Regions from separate parts of the Homo sapiens genome. Here region 2 is linked to region 1. Evidence: fine-mapped expression QTL. A gene starts in region 1. The other region holds a variant in brackets. All regions are shown on one strand. Distances are between the middles of the regions.

Region 1 (2,912 bases):
GGGGAAGGAATATAAAATAATTGTATTTTAGAGAACGACCATAAAGGAGATGGCAATTTTGAGAGAAAGTAACAGAACTGCAATGACCTAGTTTTGTGGTGTTAATTTAAATGTGGCATCTTCCATGAGAATTTTATAAAGGGAGCTCTCCTAAAACCGAGATTCACAAAAACCTGGAAGGGCCCTACAGGGATCAGGTGCCCTAGCTATTCAGCGATTTGCCTTTGCTTCCCTAATTCCTGCATTGTGCCACTGGGTTACAAGTGTGTGTGCGCATGCACACAGGGGTGTAGGTTTGATGACAGTGGTGAACTGCCTTGACTGCCTTCACAGGCTGAATCCCCCGCAGGCAGTAACCATGGCTAGGGAAAAACAGGCAGCCGCGAGGACAGTTCCGGAGGAGACAACACCAGGCTCCCGTAGGGAAACTTTTGGGAATGGAGATGGGGGATTCCATCCTTTGCGTGCAGACCCAAGACTTCGATGGTAGCTCGGACAAGTCTGTCATTGTTTTTGTCCTGGGAAATGACACACGAAGTGCTGTAATTAGACACCTAAGAAACGATTACTCTGGAGTGTGCGCGAACCGAATCTGGGGGGCCGGTGGGGAGCAGGTAAGGGGCTGAAAGGCACCGTCTCCTCCAGCTCTGTCGGAAGCCTAAAGCCCTCTGCTTCTGGGCGCCCTTAACAAACGCGCCAGACAGGTGATGTCTCCGAGGACGAGCAGGAGCCCCCCTTCGCGATCTGCACCAGAAGCCTCGGGGAGCCGGGGCCACGGCGCGGCGGTGGCGCAGTTCCCAGCCTGCGCCCAGTCCCGCCGCAGCTCCCGGCGCGGCCCGGTCATCCCGCCTCCATATGCTCCGCCACCGCCGCCCGGGCCTCCCTCAGCCCTCCCGCAGCTCCGCATTCCACGCTGCGGCAGCCGCAGCCTCGCCGCCTAGGCAGTCCACACCCCTCCCCTCGGGCTGGCGCAGCCACTCGGGCCCCGAGCCCGCGCCCCCTTGGGGGCCTCCGCTGGGCGCGCCGGCCGGACCCCGCCCGGCTTGGCCGCCGGCTGGGGCTGAGGCTCGGGCAGGGCGGGGGCGGGGAGTGGAGGGCGTGTGCGCGCGCGTGTGCCGGGGCCGGGGGGCCAGGCCGCCATATTGGATCCAGACTCGTCCGCAAGCCTCCGCCTCTGTGCGGCGGGACTGGAGGAGCCTCGCTGAGCCCAGGGCGCGAGCGCGAGAGGAGAGGGAAGGCGGGGGAGGGCTGGAAGGGAGAGGAAGGGAGTGGTTGGGAGCCGGGCTGCCGCAGCCTCTAGTCTCCTCAGCCGCGGAAGCGACCCCTCCTCCTGCGCCGGGCCGCCTCCCTCCTCGCTGTGGAAAGATGCCCTTAGCCCAGGGGTGTGAAGAAGGGGGAGAAGTAGCTGCCAGAGCCGCCCGCGCCGCCGCCGCAGCTGCTGCTGCTTGTGTCCTTTGAATTCAGAGAAGCACCCCCCCGCCTGGGGCGTCGGGAGCCTCCGGCGCGGCGGCCCGGTGCGGGTGTCGGGGAGACCGGGCTCTCTGCCCGGCGCGGCGCGGCGCGGCTCGGCCCACGAGCGACCACCGACATGGAGTGGGCTCGGGCGGCCAAGTAGCCGCTTCTCCGGAGCCCGGTGCCAGTGCCGCCCGCAGCCCGCCTTCCACCCCCGGCCGCGCCGCCGGTCAGGCCCTAGGGTGAAGCCGGGAGGAAAATGAAGAGTTTTCACCGGAATCCGTTGAAAATAGGACTGACTGCAAAGCCTTAAAGAAAGAAGGACCTCGGGAGGAGAAACGAAAAGCCGCCTCCGGGCAAGACTTGGCGTGCTCCGAGCCGAGGGGCTGCTTCAGGGACCTCGCCCCCTCCCTTTCCCGCTGGAGAAATTGCCGCTGATGCATTATCCAAGTGGTGGTTGGGAGGATTTGCAGCAACATTTTTGGTTTTCCCTCCCCCTTCTATGCATTCTGTTTTTTTCCTCCCTTTTCTGTTTTTCTTCTTCCCGGGAAGTGAATTGCTGATGCAAATCGGACTTTATTCATTAATGATGCAACCGGATTCGTTTCAGGATTACGTTGCACGAGTTGAATTTTGAATGAAGGAGAAGAGTTTTTTTTTTTTTTTTTAAAGAAGTGTTGACTCTCTAGTTCGTTGTACTTTTAATTATTATTTTATTTAAATATACGACTTAATTGTATTCTTTTAAAAATGCATTAAGTATATATTTTATGGTAATTTACCCTCAAAATATATGTATATGGGTGAAATTGAAGACGCTTCAGTTAAGTGAGGTTACTGGTGTGTTGGATGTTTAATTCAGCACCAGCATTGCATGACAGTTGTTTGAATAACAAGTGGTTTATTTTTAAAACCATACCTTTTAAAATTTAGGTTCAGATAATAGTAAAAGTCATCATAATAATTTAAAGGAAAACCAGCAGAAATCGAAGCAAACATGTCTGGAGAAGTGCGTTTGAGGCAGTTGGAGCAGTTTATTTTGGACGGGCCCGCTCAGACCAATGGGCAGTGCTTCAGTGTGGAGACATTACTGGATATACTCATCTGCCTTTATGATGAATGCAATAATTCTCCATTGAGAAGAGAGAAGAACATTCTCGAATACCTAGAATGGGGTAAGTTTGTAATTTTTAAAGAAACTGTTAATCTTTAGCTGGTCATTATGATTTAATTGGTATAGAGAGTTATGAGTAAACTCTACTCCGTTCAAAGAAAAAATACAATAAAAAAACAGACACTAGTTATTCAAGATTTTCCGCTAGTTTTTGGTAAATATTTTCCCAGGAGTAGAATTGTGCTGCTCAATTGTTGCCTTGATTTAAGGCCTAGCTAATGTGGAACTTGGCTATGAAGAACTTATGTTTTTAGGTCAACAGTAAGAGATTTTAAATCAATTCTGT
Region 2 (2,912 bases), 97 kb before region 1:
ATGTATTTAATTAATTGTAGCCAGAAATTAGATATGGGTAAGCCAGATTCCATTGTGCGACGTTATTGCTTCTTCAACCTAGATACGTGGATACTTTAACCCAAGCTCAAACCCACAAGATTTGAACTCCTAACCTTTAAAACGCAAGGCAGCTACTTTGACCACCAGGCATCCTGGTTCTTGTTTACCAGGACTGGGAGTTCTCCTCAGACAGAGCCCCATTTATTCCATGACCCTAGCAGAATAACACTAAGAAACCCAAAAGCATATCCATTTTGAAATAGTGTCTGTGGCACCAAAAGGATTCTGGAGCTCTGAATCAGCCCCTTACCTCATGGCAAAATTTACAGGCTTGCAGAGTTAAATAAAAATCAGATTGGAATGCAGGGACTTCTATTTTTCTGTAATGACATGTTGTGAGGAGAAGGAGGGCAATTTTCTTGGACATTCCTCTAAAACCAGTGCACTTGCAGTGGCTTTTTTGTTGTTGTTGTTGTTTACAAAACTATCCTAAACAGACCCAGGGCTCACTGCCATCTCCGGGTGCCAGGACTCTGGGCCACAGGGGCCATTTGTCCAGGGAATAGAATTAAAATCAATAATTATTCCTTTCACCTGGCACATGTGAGCCTCTTCTCAAAGCAGTCAGAGAGTGGACTTTAATATCTCATTCTTTCTCTGAAGTAATTTAATGATCACATAAGAAAAATGATTCTCTGAAAATATAATCTTAGAATTTGGCTCCACCTCCAAGTTGAAAGAATTTTGTAAGGAAAGAAAGAAAAAAACACTCAAGAAATATGTCTACTCCTCACGTCTGACTGTGAAAAGTCTATATACCATGACCTGAAAAGGAAAGATAAACATAGTCCATGAAATTCTGTGGCAAAAAGGAATGAAAATGTGCTTAAGAAAAAAAAACCCAAAAACTGGAATTGTATTCTCTGCAGGTTTAAAGGCAACCTTTGCCAAAATCTGCTTTCTGGAAACTTTCCTCTAGACCTGGCTGCTACCATCAGCCTTGGCTGCGGGAGAGAGACCTGGAAGACTGTGGTTTGGAATATGTGAATGTTAAAATCAGACATTGTTCCCTTTTCTTTACAACAACAAGTCTTTGGTTTTGGCTATATACATGCTGGGTTTTCCGGTACCACGTTGTTCCTTTTTTCACTAGAGGTCAGAACTATTGAAGGGATCTTGATATTTTTCAGTTTGTTTCCTTTTTGACCACTGCTCTCCCCTTTCTTACAATGCCCTTGAGAAGCTAATGGGCTCTGTTTCCATGCTGAAATGAAGAAATGATCGAGCGAGTATGAAATGACGCGTGGAAGGCCACACAGCAAGTTGGAAGAAGATTCTGGATGAGAAACTTGAAATTTCCATGTCCTCCCCAGGTCTGTAAATCCAGTCCACTAAGCTAAGTTTTTCTAAGACATTGAGGCCCAAAGATGCATGCTGAACCACAGGCATGAGGTGTGACTTCAAACCAAGAGTCAACACTATGCGGAGTGACTAGATACAGAATGCTCTAATAAAATAATTATCACCTGCTGGGGCAGAGTTAAGCTTAAAATCACCTTACCGTGGATTATTCAAATTTATAGCATATTACATATAATTCAGATAGAACAGGGTAATGTTCAACCTAATCCCATCTATGAAAAGATTGTGGAACAAACA[G/A]CAAATATTAAATATAGGAACTGTGTCTCAGTTACATGTCATATGTCACATACATAAGAACAAGAATAGGAAATAACAGAATCAATTATTATTGCATCACGGGGAACTATATTTTCAAGAAGCACCTACTGAACTTGGAAGTCATTCTCTTTAACAAAAAATGGTAGTCCATGTAACCTAACATATTACACAGCAGCAGCAGCAACTGAAAAAGCTGTTCCCAGGCAAAGGGCACATGCCAAAGTCATTTTTATAGGATCTTAAGCAGATCTTGCTCTGTTTCAGTGGAAGGTAGAATCATGCAAGAGGAAACTGGGAATGTGCAGGGCTAGAACCACAGAACATCACAAAGAGCCTTCTTAAAGGAGCAGTGGTGGGCTGAGTGATTGGGAATGCTCTGCAATTAAAGGCATACCTGGTTTAACTTTTTTTTTTTTTTTTAAGAGATGAGGCTGTCACTATGTTGCCCAGACTGTCTTGAACTCCTGGGCTCAAGTGATTCTCTCACCTTGGCCTCCCAAAGTGCTGGGGTGACAGGTATGAGCCACCATGCCCCAGCCTATCTTTGACATTTTTCTAACAGCATGTGCTCATTTCATGGTCTCTGTGTCACGTTTCTGTAATTCTCACAATATTTCAAACTTTTTCATCATTATTATTTCTGTTATACTGATCTGTGATCAGTGATCTCCAATGTTACTGTTGTAATTGTTTTGGGGAGTCATGGGCAGCACCCACATAAGAAGATGAACTTGATCAATAAATGTGTGTGCTCTGATTGCTCCACCAACCGGCTCTTCCCACTGACTGGCTGTTCCCCCATTTCTCTCCCTCTCCTCAGGGTCCTCCCTATTCCATGAGATACAACAGTATTAAAATTAGGTCAATTAATAACCCTACAGTGGCCTCTTAAGTGTTCAAGTAAAAGAGTTGCACATCTCTCACTTTATTTATTTATTTAATTTCTTTTGAGACGGAGCCTCACTCTGTTGCCCAGGGTGGAGTGCAGTAGCACCATCTTGGCTCCCTGCAACTTCTGCCTCCTGGTTCAAGTGATTCTCCTGCCTCAGCCTCCTGAATAGCTGGGATTACAGGCATGAGCCACCACACCTGCCTAATTTTTGTATTTTTAGTAGAGACAGGGTTTCACCATGTTGGCCAGGCTGGTCTTGAACTCCTGACCTCAGGTGATCCACCTGCCTCAGCCTCCCAAAGTACTGGGATTACAAGCG

What was found.
Region 2: its variant is fine-mapped to the expression of CDC42BPA in whole blood (TOPMed, PIP above 0.99).

Annotation. Positions count from the first base shown.
Region 1 is chr1:227,316,720-227,319,631 of GRCh38, reverse strand. CDC42BPA (CDC42 binding protein kinase alpha) reads left to right here and starts at 1,140. Exons shown (of 37, transcript NM_001394014.1): 1 at 1,140-2,627. The coding sequence starts at 2,450. LOC124904531 (a long non-coding RNA gene) reads right to left here and starts at 1,040. Exons shown (of 2, transcript XR_007066911.1): 1 at 634-1,040; 2 at 1-518.
Region 2 is chr1:227,413,691-227,416,602 of GRCh38, reverse strand. All of the region lies in intron 3 of LINC01641 (long intergenic non-protein coding RNA 1641), which reads right to left. It also overlaps the pseudogene NUCKS1P1. Among named protein-coding and RNA genes, the nearest start is that of LINC01641, 22 kb to the right of the region's middle. The variant G/A (reference allele first, on the strand shown) is at 1,681.